Regions from separate parts of the Homo sapiens genome. Here region 2 is linked to region 1. The links come from fine-mapping of genetic effects on gene expression. A gene starts in region 1. The other region holds a variant in brackets. All regions are shown on one strand. Distances are between the middles of the regions.

Region 1 (10,487 bases):
TACACTGGCCCCCTGCCCAGAACCACAGGGCCTCAGCGTTTTAACCAGAGGGCTCGTTTCCCTGATACCAGGCCCCCAGAAGTCACCACACGTGCCCTCCCCTCCTTCCCTGTCCTGAGTGTCAAAATTCCCCTGCCAGCTAGGGGACCCCAGGCCCCATTGTCCCATACCCAGTGGCAGGGCCTCCTCTCCTCCTTTCTCGCCCGTCTCAATCCTCATACTCGATCCTGGGCTGATTCACAGGTTATAAAAAGCTCTAGCCCAGCTTGGTCTCTAGGGCATGGGCCAAGCCTGGCCCTTGGTTCTCCTACCTCATGCAAGACCTGGCTCAGCTCCTCCAACAAGTCTCGGATCTCCTGGCATGCTGAGAAATCATTTAAGTGGGAGAAGAGGTACCTGGCAGGGGAAGAATAGCACAGTGGTTAAGGGACTATGCTTAACCACTCAGAGCCAATTACTCACCAATTACTCACCTCAGAGACTTGGGGATAATACCTGCTCTGATGGGTTTTGGTTTAGAGTAAAGGAGATGATTGAGACATCTAAAGAGATTAGCACAGGACTTATTTGTCATGTGCCTACCACATGCCAAGCCCTGTTCTAGGCACTGGGGAAACAGACAGTAAAGACATCATACATCAATATCAATTTAACTTTGGCTGTAATGAGTATCATGAAACATTGGATAATGAGTTTATAATAAGTTATTATTTATTATTTATTAATAGTATAGCTTGGAGAGTGTACAACAGGGAAGGCTTCCCCGAGATGACATTTGAGGTGGGGTCTGTAGGACAAGCAGCAGCCAGTGCACAGGGTTGGGGAGGCTCTCCATTCAGTGGTTGTTGATGAGATCGATTATTACAAGCTGGAGGGTGGGGTGGGAACTCTGGCATCCCAGTGCCCCTGCACAGGTGGATTAATCCCTCTGCCCTGCTCCACCATATCTTTTTTTTTTTTTTTTTTTTTTTTGAGAGGGAGTCTCACTCTGTCGCCCAGGCTGGAGTACAGTGGCATGATCTCGGCTCACTGGAACTTCCACCTCCCAGGTTTGAGTGATTCTCCTGCCTCAGCCTCCCCAGTAGCTGGGATTACAGGTGCGCACCACCACACCTGGCTAATTTTGTATATTTTTGGTAAAGATGGGGTTTCACCATGTTGGCCAGGCTGGTCTCCAACTCCTGACCTCAAGTGATCTGCCCGCTTCGGCCTCCCAAAGTGCTGGGATTACAGACCTAAGCCACCACGCCTGGCTCACCATATCTGAACAAGAGCCAAGATCTGTTTTTCTCTCCCACGCCCTGAAGGAGGCCAAGGATGACAATAGTCCCTCACTCGTCACCCCAACCCGGGTACCTGCTGAGCCAGAAGAGGAGGGCGTCAGCTTCATGCAACAGCTCCACAGCTGCACAGAGGACATCAATAGGGGTCTTGGCACAGTCCCCCAGGCAGCCTTGGACTATGCTCTGGAAGTCATGGGTTGCCCCCAGAAGTCCCTCTGTCAGGCTTTGCAGGTTCTCTGTCTGTAGCCTGGAGCTCTGTGCCAGAAAGAGGGCAAGTCACCTCCCTGGCAGCAGCCAGCCCCCCATCACACCCCCCAGGTTGGTGGAAGCTGCAGCCAGTGTGACCAGCATTCACTCACCAGGGCCTGGAGCTGTTCCACCCCGCCCAGGATGAGCTCCTGGTGTCCCAGAGACCGCACAGCCAGAGCCTCGAGGCTTTGGGGGCAGAGCTGGAGCAGGTTCTTGCCAGGCAGCTGCCAGTCCTCAAAGGGATAGTCCTGCAGGGAGTCGTCAAGACCTGGAGGGAGAGTAAGGCTCAGCTCGGGGAAGCAGAGGTGTCAGGACCTTTTGGGATGGTTCTTCATGCCTGCAAAGCTCTTTTCCCTCTAGTCTAACCCTAATGACAACTCTGACACCCAGGCTGTTCTGCCCATTTCACAGATGAGGCCACTGAGTTGAGAAGCAGGAAAGTATAGGACATGGGTTCTTAAAAGTGGCCCCCAGACCAGCAGCAGCAGACTCACCGGAGAACTTGTTAGAAATGCAAATTATCAGGCCTCACCCCACACCTGCTGAATCAGAAACTCTGAGGTTGGGGCCCAGCAGTCTTTTTTTTGTTTTTGTTTTGTTTTTTCTTTTTGAGACAGGGGCTTGAGACACAGTCACGGCTCACTGCAGCCTTGACCTCCTAGGCTCAATCCATCCTCCCACCTCAGCCTCCCAAGTAGCTGGGACTACAGGCACACACCACCACACCCAGCTAATTTTTGTATTTTTTGCAGAGGTGGGATTTCACCATGTTGCCCAGGCTAGTCTCGAACTCCTGGGCTCAAGCAATTTGACTGCCTCAGTCTCTGAAAGTGCTAGAATTACAGGTGTGAGCCACGACGCCCAGCCAGCAGTTTGTATTTTAATGCAGGTGACTGTGATGCTCCCTTAAGTTTGAGAACTAATGATACAGGGGATAAGAACAAGAGGCTATGGAGTCACTGAGACACTGTGAACACTTGAGCAAGTAATAGCACTGCTCTGTGCCCAGTTTTCTCACCTGTAATGTGAGAATAATAAAAGTACCTACCTTCTAATCATGTGTGTATTGAATGACACAACATATGTCAAGGCCTTGGCCACTGTCTGGTTCGTGGGAGACAGCCAATAATAGCCATCATATTATTATTGCCAGACTTTACCATGACCTACAGGCCCTGTATGATTAGGCTACTACCTCCCTTTCCAGCATCATATCCTGAAGAGCCCCCTAAACTCAACATTTCAGATGCACAGAGCTAATTCCTTGCAGCTCCTGGAACACCCTTTTACCTCAGCGTCCTTGCAAGTGCTATTCCTCCTGCTGGCGTTGCTCTTCTATCTCCTTCACTTCCTTTTTCATCTAACTTCCTCCAGGAAGCCTTCCATAACTTCCCAGGCTGAGTGGGATGGAGGGCTCTCCTCTTGTTCCCACTGCCCCTGAGCCTCCACAAACCCCTGCACTTGACCATCGGTCTTTCCCATTTTATCACAGGCTCTTCAAAGATCAGGCCTTAGATAACCATTTGTCTCTAACCCCCGGCCTGTGCCTGGACAAGGTAGGCACTGAAAAATAAGAAAAGTGTCTATTGAGGGCTTACTATGTGCTATGCAAATCTATAAGAGCTTTACACATATTAACACATTTGATTCTCACTGCATTTCTAGGAGGTAAAGACTATCATTATCCTGCTTACAGATGGGAAAACTGACACAGAGGTTAAGTAGCTTGCTCACTCTTCGAAGGAATTCTTCCCCTTCTAAGCCAGGCTCCTTCACTGGGGGAGGTGTGTGTGTGTGTTCCCTGTGTCACATTGAGAGCACTGGACTGGGAGTTCATGAACCTATCACTCCCTGGCTATGGGCCCCTGAGCCACCTCCTTCCTGCACGGTGACTGTATTGGGCTGGTGCCCTCCCAATAGACCCAGGCATTGAGCTACAAATGAACTATGTCATGATTGTCTCACTTTGTCGACTTCATAAGGTCAGAGTTGCCTTTCCCATTTGATGGACAGAAAAACTAAGACCTATGGTCACAGAGCTGGCAAGCGGTGGGGGTGGGCCTGGAATCCAGCCTGGGAGTCTGAACCCAGCCCTGAATTCCTGCCCTTACCCGGGCTGGTCCTCCTGAGCCTGTCTCTAGTGCGCTCCAGCTCCCCACTCTGGGAGGGGTGTCCTGACTGCCTGCTCCTGGTCGCACTGTGTGTCAGGAGGCCCTTCCTTCTCTGAGTCTGCCTGTGGGGTGTGTTGCTTCCCATCTGTGTGGGCTCGCTGAGCCTGGACAGCACCTTGCCCCTTGGATAGGAGCCCCAGGGTGGGGCTGTGTCAACCTCTTCAGTCTGGCCTAGGGCTTCTGCTTCTGTCACTAGGAGCTCAGGGTGTGGAGCGGGGAAAATGACACCAGAGACTGAGCAAATCATTTCCTGGCTCTGTGTGTCAGTTTCTGACTCTAAGAAACGGATTTAACAACAGCCCACTGGCCCTGGGGCCAGGGAAGATGAAGGAGATACAGTGGGTGTGGGCCTGTCAGGCCTCCCTCCTGTTTTCATGACACCGCCTCCCCATTATCACCCTAGAGGCCTCTTGGGCTACTGCCATGATGAGGGGCCCCCTTCTGGGTCCTTGGGCCCCCCAGGGTCATCTCATCTGTCTCTCTGCCCAGCACGGTTCCTGGAACATGTTAGGTGCTCTGTAAATATTTGTTGACTGACTGACCGACTGATAGAGCCCGCAGTTTATTATTTTTTTTTTTCTTTTGAGCTGAATCTCGCTCTGTCGTCCAGACTGGAGTGCAGCGGTGCAATCTCGGCTCACTGTAACCTCTGCCTCCTGGGTTCAAGCGATTCTCCTGCCTCAGCCTCCCAAGTAGCTGGGATTACAGGCACCTGCCACCACCCCCAGATAATTTTTGTATTTTTAGTAGAGACGGGGTTTCACCATGCTGGTCTTGAACTCCCGACCTCAGGTGACCCACCCACCTTGGCTTCCCAAAGTGCTGGGATTACAGGTGTGAACCAGCGCACCCAGTCCGCAGATTTTTTTTCCTTTTCCTCTCCTCCCGCTTCCCGGTGGGACACCACACCTAGTCCCCTTCAAGCCCAACTCTACCCCAGCCCCACCCACCTCTCAGCCAAGTTGCCACCTTTCCGGGGGTCCAGGTCTCTACCGGTTCCATGGCCCAGCTCTGCCAGCTCGAATCAGCTCCTGTTTTGCCCTGCTGTCGCCGGAATTTCCGCTCCCAGAGCCCAGGCCTAAGGAGGGGCCGGGCTGGGTCCTGGGCGGAGCCTACTGCATACCTGGGCTCACACAGACGGCAAGATGAGGCACTGCGACAGCCATTGGCCCACGCCCGTCCGCCTCCTGCCCGGCCCTTCAGACATCCTAGGGCTCTGGCATCTCGCGCCTGCTAGGGGGCAGTGCCACTGGCCTCATATCGCGGGGTGGGACCCTGACCCTTGGGCTCCTCAAGAAAAAGCCACAAGAGGAGCGCTGAAATCAGTAGCAAAGCACAGAGGCTAGGGGGCCAGGTCCCTGGGTGCCTAGGCCAGCTCTTGTTAGCTGTGTGACCTGGGGCTGACCCTAACTTCTGCGCCTCAGTTTCTGGGTCTGTAAAAGAGATATAATAGACCGTACTTCAAAGGGCAGCTGTGCACAGTATCTGAATGGCTTGAAAACATTTAGAACTGGGGTGTTTAGCCTCCCTTGGATTTTGCAGTATGGACTCTGGCATCTGGTGAGGCCTGTGAATGCTTTCTCAGAATAGCTGCTTATAAAGGCATAAAACAGGCCGGGCGCGGTGGCTCACGCCTGTAATCCCAGCACTTTGGGAGGCCGAGGTGGGCGGATCACTTGAGATCAGGAGTTCAAGACCAGCCTGGCCAATATGGTGAAACACCATCTCTACTAAAAATACAAAAAATTAGCTGGGCGTAGTGGGTGCTTGTAATCCCAGCTACTCAGGAGGCTGAGGCAGGAGAATCCCTTGAACCCAGGAGGGGGAGGTTCCAGTGAGCCAAGATCGTGCCACTGCACTCCAGCCTGGGCAACAGAGCAAAACTCTGTATTATAAATAAATAAATAAATGCACAAAACAAAATGCTTAGGATTACAATGAGAACAATTATCAAAACTATATTTAAAAACAAATTTGGCCGGGCATGGTGGTTCACGCCTGTAATTCCAGCACTTTGGAAGGCCAAGGCGGGTGGATCATGAGGTTAAGAGATGGAAACCAGCCTGCCCAACATGGTGAAACCCCGTCTCTACTAAAAATACAAAAATTAGCTGGGTGTGGTGGTGCACGCCTGTAGTCACAGCTACTCAGGAGGCTGAGGCAGGAGAATCGCTTGAACCTGGGAGGCGGAGGTTGCAGTGAGCTGAGATCACGCCTCTGCACTCCAGCCTGGCAACAAAGCAAGACTCCGTCTCAAAAAAAAAACCCACAAAAAACAAAAAAAAAATTTGGAGCTGGGGAGTGCTGGCACACGACTGTAGTCCCAGCTACTCGAGAGGTTGAGAGGTTGAGCGGGGGAGTATCACTCAAGCCCAGGAGTCAAAGCCACCCTGGGCAACATAGCAGGAGCCCATCTCAAAAAAATAAAACCAGAAATTTATATTATGTGTTTACTAACATTAATAAGACTGGCCGAAAGTTAAATTTTTCTTTTTTAATGACCTCAGTGTGTTGTCGACCAGCTTGAATAAGGACATTAAACTGTGGGGTGGTCTTTGACGCCCCTCCTCTTACATATTGATCAGCAAACAACTAAAAACAGGGAATGCTGGGCCGGGCATGGTGGCTCACGCCTATAATCGAGACGGGCGGATTATGAGGTCAGGAGATCGAGACCATCCTGGCTAACATGGTGAAACCCCGTCTCTACTAAAAATACAAAAAATTAGCCAGGCATGGTGGCGGGCGCCTGTAGTCCCAGCTACTCAGGAGGCTGAGGCAGGAGAATGGCGTGAACCCAGGAGGCAGAGCTTGCAGTGAGCCGAGTTCGCGCCACTGCACTCTAGCCTGGGCGACAGAGCAAGACTTCGTCTCAAAAAAAAAAAAAAAAAGACAGGGAATGCAGAAGAGTGGAGAAGCCCTACTCAGAACAGGCAGATTCGCCCTTTGGTCACTGAACCACTGCTAAGCCTGGAGGTAACCAATTAATGGCGGCTACATCACAGGAGCATCTGAAACAGAAGTTGCTCACGAACAATTTAGTGGTGGTTTAACAACCACTGTGATTTTGAAATCACTTGAGCATAAATATTTTGAGATACTTGCAATAACTACAATTTGATATGAAAATATGTGATTTCTATTGGTGACTAAGCCAAAGATACTGCTACTGCTTCAATCCATATAGAAGGAAATCATAAATTTTGGTTAGAGTTTAGCAAAAATAAAAATATAATTTTTTCCCATCCAAGTTTATGGATCCCCTGAATTCTGAACCTCAGAGCAAGAGCTTTAATCTTAGAAAAATATCTGACACATAGTAAATGTTCATTTTCATCATCATCATCAGGTCAGGGGACTCCCAGGACTTTAGAATCAGATAAAATCAGCCGGGCGTGGTGGCTCAGGCCTGTAATCCCAGCACTTCAGGAGACCTATGCGGGCGGATCACCTGAGGTCAGGAGTTCGAGACCAGCCTGACCAACATGGAGCAACCCCATCTCTACTAAAAATACAAAATTAGCCGGGTGTGGTGGCACATGCCTGTAATCCCAGGTACTCGGGAGGCTGAGGCAGGAGAATTGCTTGAACTCATGAGGTAGAGGTAGCGGTGAGCTGAGATCGCGTCATTGCACTCCAGCCTGGGCAACAAAAGTGAAACTCCACCTCAAAAAAAAAAAGGCCGGGCGCGGTGGCTCATGCCTGTAATCCCAGCACTTTGGGAGGCCAAGGCGGGTGGATCATCTGAGGTCAGGAGTTCGAGATCAGCCTGGCCAACATAGAGAAGCCCTGTCTGTACTAAAAATCCAAAAAATTAGCCGGTCGTGGTGGCGGGCGCCTATAATCCCAGCAACTCGGAAGGCTGAGACAGGAGAATTGCTTGAACCCGGAAGCAGAGGTTGCAGTGAGCCGAGATTGCGCCACTGCACTCCAACCTGGGCAACAAGAGCAAAACTCTGTCTCAAAAAAAAAAAAAATCAGATAAAATCAGTTCCATACTCAACTGCTATGTGACTCAGCCCAACTTCTACAGCTCTCTGAATCTGTTTCTTTGTCTCCAGAAGGGGATTCCTAGGCCTTAGCACTGTGATGACATTAAGTACTTTGAAATCTGTATCATGGGGTAGATATGAGTTATTATTGCTTTAATTCTGTGGGGAGGAGCTACCTGTTGTCACCTACTTCAGAATTTCTGCAGCACCCCCAGTCATCAAAGCCTGTCACGACCTTACCTGTAACCCAGAGACCCAAAGTCTGAATTTCGCCCATGGTTGGCCCATGTAGTGTACGTGTGTTGTCATCATTTAATAACGTCACATCCAAATTGAGATTTCCAGCTTCTCTGAACTTGGCCAGCTCTGGTGATGCCATCCCACCTTCACACTTGGTATTAACAGCCTCTTTCATTTTGTGAGCCAGTTGGCTTCAAATTTGCAAAATGCCCGTCTCCAGCTTTGTCTTTTGCCTCAGGTCTGTGTCCCTTGAACACTCCGTGCTGCATCCTCGTTTAACATTTTTGCCTCTTCATGCAGCAGCCTCCCTGTGGCACTCTGGGGAAGTCCAGTAAATTCTAATAGAGCCTTTATCAGTGTTCGGTAGACAGATCTTGATTTCATCAAATATCTTTCCTGAGCTGCCACCAGAGGTGAGAACCAGCCCCCTCTCTCCCTGAACCACGGCGCCTTTACTCTACGCTCCCAGCATCTGCCAGGGTTAGGCAGTTAGGAACACAGTAAGTGGCAGCTTCTATTTATTTTTATCTATTTTTTTGAGACAGAGCTTTGCTCTTGTTGCCCAGGCTGGAGTGCAATGGCATGATCTTGGCTCACTGCAACCTCCGCCTCCCAGGTTCAAGCTATTCTCCTGCCTCTGCCTCCCAAGTAGCTGGGATTACAGGCGTGTGCCACCATGCTCGGCTAATTTTGTATTTTTAGTAGAGATGGGGTTTCACCATGTTGACCAGGCTGGTCTCAAACTCCTGACCTCAAGTGATCTCCTTGCCTCGGCCTCTCAAAGTGCTGGGATTACAGGCGTAAACCACCACGCCCGGCTGACAACTTCTATTTTAAAGGGTTTCATTTTGTTTTTTGAGAGAGTCTTGCTCCGCTGCCCAGGTTGGAGTGCAGTGGCGCAGTCTTGGCTCACTGCAACCTCTCCCTCCCAGGTTCAAGTGATTCTCGTGCCTCAATCTCCCAAGTAGCTGGGATTACAGGTGTGCGCCACCACACCCAGCTAATTTTTTTATTTTTAGTAGAGACAGGGTTTTGCCATGTTGGCCAGGCTGGTCTCGGACTCCTGACCTCAAGTGATTCACCTACCTTGGCCTCCCAAAGTGCTGGGATTACAGGTGTGAGCCACCATGCCCAGCCTATTTTAAAAAGCTTTATGAATATAAAGTTCTACATATTTGCTGTATACATTTCAAAGGTAATAGGTTAAGTGAAAGAAGGATGTGCCCTTTCCCCAGTGTGTCTCTATCATGTTCCCCAGTGGGGGCCACTACTAAATTTGGGATATTCTTCTATTTTCTATATCTGCAGATAGTCTACATACTATTCTGCAAATTGTACTTTTTCTTTTTTATTTTTATTGGAGACAGGGTCTGGCTCTGTCACCCATGCTGGAGTGCAATGGTGCAACCTCAGCTCATTGCAGCCTCCACCTCCTGGGCTCAAGTGATCCTCCCACCTCAGCCTCCTGAGTAGCTGGGACTACAGGCATGCACCACCATGCCTGGCTAAATTTTTTTTTTTTTTTTTGGTAGAGATGAGGTTTCACCACGTTGCCCAGGCTGGTCTTGAACTCCTGGGCTCAAGCCATCTGCCTGCCTCAGCCTCCCAAAGTGCTGCCCAGCCATACTTTTTCATTTAAGAGATAATCGATAGCAAATGAAATAATACAAGTTAAGTGCTTAGAACAATGACTACTATTTTTAACGTATCACGGGCAGCTTCCTTAATTGGTATATGCAGATATGCTTTTATTATTGTTTCAAGCTGAGGGCAGGGAAGTCCCTGAAGAAACTTTGTCTTGAAAAAATGGGTTAAATTGGCCGGGCGCAGTGGCTCACACCTGTAATCCCAACACTTTGGGACGCCAAGGCGGGGGGATCATGAGGTCAGGAGTTCAAGACCAGCCTGACCAATATGGTGAAACCCCGTCTCTACTACAAATACAAAAATTAGCTGGGCGCGGTGGCAGGTGCCTGTAATTTCAGCTACTCAGGAGGCTGAGGCTGGAGAATCGCTTGAACCTGGGTGGCAGTGAGACGAGATCATGCCACTGCACTCAAGCCTGGGTGACAGAGTGAGACTTCTGTCTTAAAAAAAAAAAAAAAAAGGGTTATATGTGCCCTCCCTTGAGGTAGGGGCGGTTGATTTCACAGAAATCAAATGGAAAAGGCATACTGTTGTGGGAGCTAATAACACATCCTTCCTTCGATAATGCTGATTGGTGGCATCCAATCATCTAAGGTAGCGATGGGGCCTGGACCAGGGCTGAGGGAGGCCCGCCCAGTACCTGGTCCAGGCCTGGGACTCCTGAGCACTGCCAGCCAAGGCCTCTCCTGCCTAACCGGACCCGCCTCCTCGGAGAGTGGGGGAGGTGCCGCTCAAGCCTGATGCTGATCTCTTTTGACAGCTGCTTCTAAGGCTGGCAGGATGGTAGGCAGTGGGGGAAGGGACCAGATTTAAAGGTCCAGTTGCTCCGCCCCCTGCCAGACCTGGGCAGGCAGGCGCGGGTGAGCATCCTCTGAGAGCTTGGGTCTTGCGTATGTGGAAGGTCA
Region 2 (10,000 bases), 26 kb before region 1:
GCAGAAATAGGCCCATCACCTGATGTGCTGTTTTTGCATTCTTGGCAGTTTTCTTTCTTTCTTTCTTTCTTTCTTTCTTTTTTTTTTTTTTGAGACAGCCTCACTCTGTCACCGAGGCTGGAGTGCAGTGGCGTCATGTTGGCTCACTGCAACCTCTGCATCCTGGGTTCAAGTGATTCTCCTGCCTCGGCCTCCCAAGTAGCTGGGACAACAGGCGCATGCCACCGTGCCCTGCTAATTTTTGTGTTTTTAGTAGAGATGGGTTTTTGCCATGTTGGCCAGGCTGGTCTCGAACTCCTGGCCTCAAATGATCCACCCGCCTCAGCCTCTCGAAGTGCTTGGATTATAGCCGTGAGCCACCGTGTCCAGCCTCTTGGCAGTTTTCAAAAGGCTAACTCAGAAAATTGGAGGCTGGCCAGGCATGGTGGCTCACGCCTGTAATCCCAGGATTTTGGGAGGCTGAGATGGGAGGATCACCTGAGGTCAGGAGTTCGAGACCAGCCTGACCAACATGGTGAAACCTCGTCTTTACAAAACACACAAAATTAGCCAGGCGTGGTGGCACACACCTGTAATCCCAGCTACTTGGAAGGCTGAGATAGGAGAATCGCTTGAACCCGGGAGGCACAGGTTGCAATGAGCCAAGATCATGCCATTGCACTCCAGCCTGGGCAACAAGAGCAAAACTCAAAAAAAAAAAAAAAAAGGAAAAGAAAAGAAAAGAAAAAAAACTGGAAGTGACCCAGCCCAGGTGGCAGGCTCATTCTTTGTCCTTCCCATCGCCTAATTCTGAAGATGCACCAACCCTTCTTTTCTGGCACCATCCACACCCTCACTTTTTTTTTAGAGACAGAGTCTCAGTTGCCCAGGCTGTAGTGCCGTGGTGCAATCATGGCTCACTGCAGCCTCAAACTCCTGGGCTCAAGTGATCCTCTTGCCTCAGCCTCCTGAGTAGCTGGGACTACAAGTGCGCACCACCACACTCGACTAACATTTTTCTTTTTATTATTTATTTATTTATTTGAGATGGAGTCTCACTCTGTCACCAGGCTGGAGTGCAGTGGCGTGATCTCAGCTCACTGCAACCTCTGCCTTCTGGGTTCAAACAATTCTCCTGCCTCAGCCTCCCGAGTAGCTGGGACTACAGGCGCACCACATTGCACACACATTGCACCACACCCAGTTGATTTTTTTTTTCCTCACTCTGTCACCAGGCTGGAGTGCAGTGGCACAATCTCAGCTCACTGCAACCTCCACCTCCTGGGTTCAAGTGATTCTCCTGCCTTAGCCTCCCGAGTAGCTGGGACTATAGGCGCATGCCACCACGCCCAGCTGATTTTTTTCTTTTCTTTCTTTCTTTCTTTCTTTCTTTCTTTTTAAAGACAGATTCTCACTCTGTTGCCAGGCTGGAGTAAAGTGGCACAATCTCAGTTCACTAAAACCTCCACCTCCCGGGTTCAAGTGATTCTCTTGCCTCAGCCTCCTGAGTAGCTGGGACTACAGGCGCGTGCCACCACGCCCAGCTAATTTATTTTTTATTTTTTTAGTAGAGACAGGGTTTCTCCATGTTGGCCAGGATGGTCTTGATCTCTTGACCTCATGACCTGCCCCCCTCAGCCTCCCAAAGTGCTGGGATTACAGGCGTGAACCACTGCACCCAGCCTTCTTTTTATTTTTTGTAGAGATGAGGTCTCACTATATTACCCAGGATGGTCTCAAACTCTTGGCCTCAAGCAATCCTCCTGCCTTGGCCTCTAAAAGTGCTGGGATTGTAGGCATGAGCCACCTTGCCCAGTCCCACACCCACTTTCTTCTGGCCCTGTGCAGAGCTAAGGGATTGCAACAGGCCAGGGGAATTGGCAAGGATGCTTGGAAAGGGTAGGGGGACCTACGCTCTACACCTGGCTCTATTACTGGCTTGCTGGGTGACGCTGGGGAAGGTCTCACCTCTCTCTGGGCCTCCATGTTCCTCTTAGCCTAGTGAGGGACTTGGCTCAGTGTGGAGGAGCATTGTAAACTCTAGTCATCTGTGGGGTCCATTTGCAACAAAGATCTAGTTTGCACTGAACCTATATGTCTTGCTATAGGGGTCTCAAGTTTTTATTTGCAGGGAGGGATGTTTCCACTGAATCTGACTTTATGTTTTTTCCATATAGTTAATCAGTTATCCCTGCCCCCTTATGGAAAAGTCCATCTTTCCCCCAACCAACACCACATTATCTTACTGTTACTTTATAGTAAGCCTCAATATTTGGTCGGGTGAGTCACCCATCTTGTGCTTCAAAATTATCTTGACAGGCCGGGCGCAGTGGCTCTCACCTGTAATCCCAGCACTTTGGGAAGCCGAGGTGGGCAGATCACTTGAGGTCAGGAGTTCGAGACCAGCCTGACCAACATGGTGAAACCCCATCTCTACTAAATACAAAAAATTAGCTGGGCTTGGTGGCGCATGCCTGTACTCCCACCTACTCGGAAGGCTGAGGCAGAAGAATTGCTTGAATCTGGGAGGTGGAGGTTGCAGTGAGCCAAGATCGTGCCATTGCACTCCAGCCTGGGCAACAAGAGCAAAACTCCGTCTCAAAAAAAAAAAAAAATTATCTTGACTATTCTTGGCCTTTTGTTCTTCCTTACATATGTTAGGATCAGCTTAACAATTTCTACAAGCAACCTGTTGGAATTGTGATTGGAGGTGCCCTGCAATTATAGGTTCAGTGAGGATTGACATCTTTATGATATTGAGGTTTCCTGCCCACAGAAGCTCCCTTGAGAAGTGTGACCTGGGCTCTGAAGTCAGACCTGGGTTAGGATCTCAGTTCTGTGATGGAGGATAAGTCCCCCGTGGGGACATATCCTCTTCATACCCACTTCACTGATGGTCATGAGGATGAAATACTGCGTGTGAAGCACTCAGCACCATGCTTAGCACCTAGTAGGTACTCAATGAGTAGAACTGCTATTGGGAATGATTATCCCCTGCTGCTCCTGTCATCAGAATTGGTGTCTGCTTCCTGGACAGTTTGCCAAGGATGCTCCTGTCCCTGGTAAAAGTTATGGACTCATAGGGAGTCCCCAGAGGTCCACTGATTGTAGCTGATGGGAAACCCATCAGGTGAGACCATAGGGGTGATGAGACACACAATTTCCAGCCACCTCCCAATATCTTCCCCCGCACTGTCCTAGGAGCTCAGAATCCGGGGCCCCACTCCTAACTCAGGCTCAGTAAGGCATGGGGAGTGGTAGTTGCTCTTTGCTGGAGTAGGGAAGGGGAAGGGGAAGGGGAGAGTATGACTTCCTGGGCCCTCAGTTCCAGGCCAGTTTGGGAAGGAACTAGCCTGCTGAAACTCCAGGCTGTTAGGTTGGCCCGGATGGGAAAGACAAAGGCAGAGACAGATGAGATGACAAACAAGATGAAGGGAGTAGATAGACAAAATAGCATCCTGGAGGAGATAGATGGTCAAGGCCAGGAGCTCCATGGAGGTCACCCTGCTGTGCTCCTGACTGTAAGCTCACTGATGCTCCAAGCCTTTCAGACAGTTAGGGGTGAAGGATAGCCATACTCAAACTGTTAGCTCCTCCTGAAGACACCATCTGATCTGCCACCTTCTTCCCTCTCTGGCCAACAAGAAGAGGGGCTGAGAGGGCCCCCAGAGAAAGATGGGTGGAAAGAGTATGTAGATACTCACCAGGCAGGTTGAGGGCGCCATCTCCAGTAAGTAGCAACAGCAGCAGCAAAATCCGCTGGGTGCCCTTCTCTGTGCTGCTGATGGTCCTGGAGGGTGCTGGGAAGAAGTCCTGGCTCAAACAGGGGAATAGATTAACGGCTCCGAGACAGTAAGGCACTGCTGGCTCTGTTGCTGCCTCTCATCTGCCTACTGAGTGCACCATCCATCCCCAGGGGCCAGACTCCTTCCCAACAGACCCCAGGGGGCTTTTCAGAGTTGGAACCAATGCTGATGGGAGGACGATGGGGGGTGGGGTTTCCCATCAGCTGCAATCAGTGGACCTCTGGGGACTCCCATTCCAACTGGTGAATATCGCCACGGCCCCTAAGTGTCAGGCTTCGCTGAACAACAGGGCAGATGTCCAGGCCTTCCAGGCTATCCCCTGACACCTGCATCCCAGGGACATAGCTGATCCCATGGGTCTTCCACTTCCTGGGATAAGAGGGGATTATTTGATTTTAGAGATGGAGATCAATCTCACCCTCTCTCCATCGCACAGATGGGGAAAACAAGGCCAAGTGACTCACTGAAGGACCAGAACCGAGGTTTCCTGTCCTCCAAGGCAGCTCTTTCTATTGCCCATAACTGCCACAATTTTCTGACTCTCCCCAGATTGCATAGCTCAGGAACCTGCTGAGGCTCTCAGTGGCCTTGAGTATGAAGATCCCAAATAGGCTTCACAGGTCCTAAGTTCCCCACCAGACTTCATTCATCTGACCCGCAAAATCTTCCTCTCCTCTAGGAAGCTGCCAGGACCCACATTTTAAGTAGTCAGTCTCCATTGCCCTAGGATGGAGGTGCCTGTACTTGTGTGACTTGGTCATTGGTGATCCCATCAGACAAGGGCTCCCCAGAGTGAGGACCAGTCTCCATCTTCAGACAGGGAGAGAGCAGGTAGGGCCATCTCCTTCATCAGACAGGGGCTCCCTCCCATGAGGACCAGACTTTCCTCCACAAAGCTTAGGACCCTGAGGGCAAGGGTTATATCTCTACCATTAAGTCAGAAATTTTTAGGGGTGCAATTCTCCCTCCCATTAGACTGGATGCTCTTCAGGGCAGCCTGTGACTCTCCCACCAGACAAACGGGATTTTGAGGGGCAAGATCTGTCTTTCCTATTAGACCCAGGCAAGTGCCCCAAGGAGTTGGAGATCCACCAGTCAGAGACATTGATTCCAACACAAAACTTTATTGTCAACACACAGATGTCTGGCCCCACTGGCCTTGCCTTTCTCTTCTTGGTTCTGGGGCCCACTGAGGCCCCCCACCAGCTCTGGGCAAGAGCAGGGGGCCAGGGATCCCCATCCTTAGGTCAAATCCTGGCTGCGTTGGCCAGCACCCCCTTCTGTGCTCATCCTTGCTGCTAGGGTTCCCACTCTCATCATCCAGCATCCTCCTCTCTCCTTGCTCCACCGGACCTGGGGCTCACAGGCACCAGACCTGCAGGTGCTGCCACCTTCACAGCCCCTGGCCTCTGCCCAGGTATAAGGGAGAGGATGGGCTCTGGCCAGGCTCTGCCAAGCCACACTAAGGACACAGGAAGACGCAGCGGCTGGGTGTGTGTGTGCAGGCCCCTTGGCTCCCATCCTGGCCTCTCAGTGGCTGCTCTTGTGTTTTTTAAGGAGTATTTGTGAGCTAGAGTCATGAACCTGCAAACCAAGAGGTCTTCTTGTTAATCCCCCACTCCCCCCGATATGGCAGCCTCCGTTACTCACCTCCTCCAGTCTCACCAGCTTCCCCAGCCAGGCCTCCCAGAGAAGTGCTTCATAGGTCTAACTTGAGCCTACCTAGTACCCCCTCTGAGTTTGGGAGCCCAGGGTATATCCCAGGCTGATGGTGTGGAGGGGCAGAAAAAGAAACTAAGTAACGTGGGTGTGTGCCTTTTTCTCTCCAGGAGTTCAGGAGACAGCTGGTTTTGTGCACCTTAGATAGGATCCTGGGTCCTGTGCCCACACTATACTTACAGCCTAAGTGTCTGCCACTAGGCAGGCACTGAGCTGGCTCATGCCACACACACTAAGAAAGGGTAGGTTTGAAGGCACTAGAGATGAAACTGGCAGGAAGGGTGGAGCCTTTCCGAGAAGGAAAGTGCAGAACCTAACCAGATAGGCAGTGACAGCTGAGGCAGATGGAAGTTTAAGAGGCAGACAGCCAGGTGCAGTGGCTCACGCCTGTAATCCCAGCACTTTGGGAGGCCAAGGAGGGTGGATCACGAGGTCAGGAGTTCAAGACCAGCCTGGCCAAGATGGTGAAACCCCCATCTCTACTAAAACTACAAAAATTAGCCAGGTGCAGTGACAAGCACCTGTAATCCCAGCTACTTGGGAGGCTGAAGCAGGAGAATCGCTTGAACCCAGGCCGCAGAGGTGGCAGCGAGCCGAGATCGCGCCACTGCACTCCAGCCTGGGCGATGGAGTAAGACTCCGTCTCAAAAAAAAAAAAAAAAAGGAAAGAAAGAAAGAAAAAGAAAAAAGAAAAAAAAGGAGGGGTGGTGGTGGTGAGGGGGACCAGATCTTGGAATAGACAGAAACTTTGACAAATGGTCCAGAGGCCCGGCTGGGCTGGGCTGAGCAGAGTGTCAGGGCGAGTACCCATTGGGTAGGAGAAGGAAGGCACACCTTTTCCATGCTAACGAGCGCACTGAGCAAGTCTTGCTGTTGAGACATCTGGCGGATGTCCTTGGATGACGTAGTCTCCAACGACCCGCTCGTCGACGAGCGCCTGTTCAACACCTCTGACTCCTG[C/T]TCCTGGTTGAAGCGGATTGCGCGCACCTCCTCCACAATCCTGGGGGTGGAGCAGTGAGTGCCTTTCAGAAGGCCTCAGGGGAGGGAAGCAGCCCTCCCACCTCTTCCCTGGCGTCACCCCCGCTTCGCTCTCCCACGCAGCCCTGACAGAGACCCAGGCCGAGCTGTGCCCTTGTGTGAGATGGAAGGAACCTGGAGTCTGGATTCCAGTTCCTCCACCAATAGGGTGGGGGACCTCTGTGGGGCCCAGGCTCTGCCTTATAAATGGTGAGGGCGTGAGGCCAGAAGACTCTGACGCTCCGCCCAGCCTTGACTCACATGACTTGGGGGCAGCCCCAGTACCCTCCCCTACATGTTGAGTTCATCTCGGATCTCCTTGTACTGCCTCAGGTTCTCCTGTATTGCCTCAAGCACCAAGCAAAAGTTGTCACACGTGTTTTCTGAGAGGTTCGACAGGGGGCCTCCCGCAAGGGGTTCCTGGAGGAGACCAGATTTCTCCGAGCGGGCGACCACACAATGCACCAGTGGCAGCTGGTCATTCTCCTCCTCTTCCTCTGCGCCTGTCTGGGAAGCGGGGGATAGAGAGGGGTCGGGACAGCTCAGGCAGGCACGCCCCCGGCACCCTTTTCCTGCTTGGCTTCAGGATGAGTCTCTTAGGACCCCAGGGTTCTAAGGCCCTCATTTCAGCTCTCACCAATCTTAGCCTCACTGCCTTGCTGGGGGAACCCAACTTTAAATGCACATGACCTCCCCCCACCTCTTTAAAAATTCTCACCCCATTTCAAAATTTAGCCCTGCCCCAGATTTCAACCCTGATAAACCCTACCCAGCAAATTTATAAAGCCCTGCCTACCCTCAAGCCCAGGCCTCCAGCACTCCACTCTTTTAGAAGTACTCCACCCCTTTCCCCAACCTTATGGAAGTACTGCCCTGAATGAATAATACCGTAGCTAACATTTATTGAGTGCTTACTATGCGCCAAGCACTGTTCATTTACCCATTAACCCTCATAAAATAACCCTATGAGTTAAGTACTATTATTATTCCCATTTTACAAAAGAAAAAAATTGAGGCTTAGAGTGGGTAAATGCCCCAAGGTCACCCAGCTGCTCAGTTTTGAGTTGCCATAGAAATCTAACATCTAGAAAATCCACACCCCTCAGAAGCCCCAGTTGGTGGGTGGGCACTCAAGATGGGGGGCTGCTGCCTCCAGGCCTCCAACTTGGCTTTCTCCAGGCCCTTGATTATGCAAGCACACACATACATGCACATATGTTCAAGTCCGCTCTCATACACACTCCTTTTCCTCCCTTCTGCCCTCCCCATCCCACGCACCTCACTAAAGGTTATTCGTTGCTGTTGTCCCTGCTCTCCTGCCTTCATCATTTGCTCCAGGTTGGTGGTCACCACGATGACGAACAGGTTGATGCCAATGAAGGCACCGATGGTGATGAAGATGGTAAAGTAGATGGCACCCCCAATCTCCATTGCATATTCCCTCTTCTCTGTCCTGCAGATGGCAGGCAGGGGCCCCATCATTTCCCTGGCCCTTCAAGCCTGAGTTTCCTTGTCATTGAAATGGGAAAATCATCCCAAGGCCTACTAGAACTTCTGCCTGTGTCACTGCTGTTGTGCAGATCCCATTCCCTACTCCTGTCTCAATAGCTGCTCTCTACTAAGCACCTACTGTGCTGCCAGACAGTGAGCTGATTCTCTAACCAACCCTGCAAGGTGGGGACGTGCACATCAACACTATTAAGTTTAATCTATTAGCTACACTCCTTTTTTTTTTTTTGAGATGGAGTCTCGCTGTGTTGCCCAGACTGGAGTGAAGTGGCGTGATCTCGGCTCACTGCAAGCTCCACCTCCTGGGTTCATGTCGTTCTCCCGCCTCAGCCTCCCAAGTAGCTGAGACTACAGGTGCTTGCCACCACGCCTGGCTAATTTTTTTTTTTTTTTTTTGAGACAGAGTCTCACTCTGTCACCTAAGCTGGAGTGCAGTGGCGTGATATGGGTTCACCGCAACCTCCGCCTCCCAGGTTCAAGCGATTCTCCTGCCTTAGCCTCCTGAGTAGCTGGGATTACAGGCGCCCCACCGTCCGGCTAATTTTTGTATATTTAGTAGAGACGGGGTTTCACCTTTTTGGCCAGGCTGGTCTTGAACTCCTGACCTTGTGATCCACCTGCCTCAGCCTCCCAAAGTGCTGGGATTACAGGTGTGAGCCACTGCACTGGGCTTTGTTTTTGTATTTTTAGTAGAGATGGGGTTTCACTGTGTTAGCCAGGATAGCCTTGATCTGACCTCGTGAGCTGCCCACCTCGGCCTCCCAAGGTGCTGGGATTACAGGCGTGAGCCACCGCGCCCGGCCCCGGCCAGCCTGATTTTTATCCACTACCTATGCCATAATGGAGAATGACTGTAGAAGCCCTTTATCTACTGGGCTTCTATACTCACATGTAGAAGATAAAAAGAAATCAGTTAAGGGGTCCCACTTTCTGGAATAAACTGGAAAGAAATAGGGCTTAGACTTAATAGAAAAGAGGTAAAGAACAGAACACAAAAATGAATGTGGGCAGTGGGTTTAAGAATGAATGAAATGAGACCTGAAGTTCCCAGGAGTTCAGGCAGTTTGGTGGGCTCCAAGGTGGGCTGGGAGGTTGCTCTGTAACCTGAGGCATAACTGCAGACCTGCTGCCTTATCCAAGGCCAACTACCCAGCTGGTTAGCATGATGGGAGAGGTCCCCATTACAGGGTGGGAATGGGACTCTGAATATATGGAGATTCAAGGGTGACAAGGCTTCAGGTATCACAAGTCCAGGTATTTCCTTTTCCTCTGTTTAAAGACCTGGGAACCCCCACTTCTACTGGGCCATCCTCATCCCAATCCCTGGAGCTCCCACTCTCAGCCTGGAGCTCCACCGGCTACCCTGCCCCATAGGTGGGATGAGGCTGGAAGTCCCACTGGCACTCACTGGAAGTCACTGTAGATGTCCACCCAGCCGTCCTGGGTGATGCAGATGAAGAGGGTGTACAGCGCAACCTGTATGTTCTGGAAATGCTTGGGCACGAATGCACCAAAGAGTGTTACTCCAAACACGGAAAAAACCTGTCAGAGAGAAAAGAGCCCCACCCCGACTTCACCAAAGGGCCTGGAAATAGGACACACAAATGTCATGTAAATGAACGCTGCTGAGGAAATCACAGGGATTCAGGCCCACAGGCCTCTCTGCTTTTCCAGACACCCCTCTATTTGCAATGACCCAAGGGCCCTGTTCAGGGAAGGGAAACAGCTGGGGGCGGGGGCAGGCACTGACCAGCATGAAGAAGAGGATGAGGACCATGATATTGGCCATGTCAGGCACCGACTGCAGGATGACGCGGATGATCCGGGCGAGGGGCTCCACCGCCATGCACACATGCACCAGACGAAGCGCCCTGTGGCAGAGCCTGTCAGGGGTGCCCCTAGGCCCTTCCCAGCCCCTTCCCTCCTCATTACCCCCACCAGCTGCCCAGAGAGGCAAAGCTGATCTCCAG

The links.
Region 2: its variant is fine-mapped to the expression of CNKSR1 in whole blood (TOPMed, PIP 0.94).

What each region holds. Positions count from the first base shown.
Region 1 is chr1:26,171,766-26,182,252 of GRCh38, reverse strand. It overlaps CNKSR1 (connector enhancer of kinase suppressor of Ras 1), which reads right to left and starts at 4,762. Exons shown (of 21, transcript NM_006314.3): 1 at 4,654-4,762; 2 at 1,643-1,800; 3 at 1,357-1,538; 4 at 312-396. The coding sequence starts at 4,705. It overlaps ZNF593OS (ZNF593 opposite strand), which reads left to right and starts at 10,421. Exons shown (of 4, transcript NM_001395468.1): 1 at 10,421-10,483. RefSeq lists an enhancer at 1-183.
Region 2 is chr1:26,197,858-26,207,857 of GRCh38, reverse strand. CATSPER4 (cation channel sperm associated 4) reads right to left here. Exons shown (of 10, transcript NM_198137.2): 5 at 9,781-9,901; 6 at 9,439-9,572; 7 at 7,800-7,974; 8 at 6,817-7,028; 9 at 6,339-6,504; 10 at 4,894-5,369. The coding sequence ends at 5,316. Among named protein-coding and RNA genes, the nearest start is that of CATSPER4, 12 kb to the right of the region's middle. RefSeq lists enhancers at 5,431-6,403, 9,387-9,886. The variant C/T (reference allele first, on the strand shown) is at 6,465.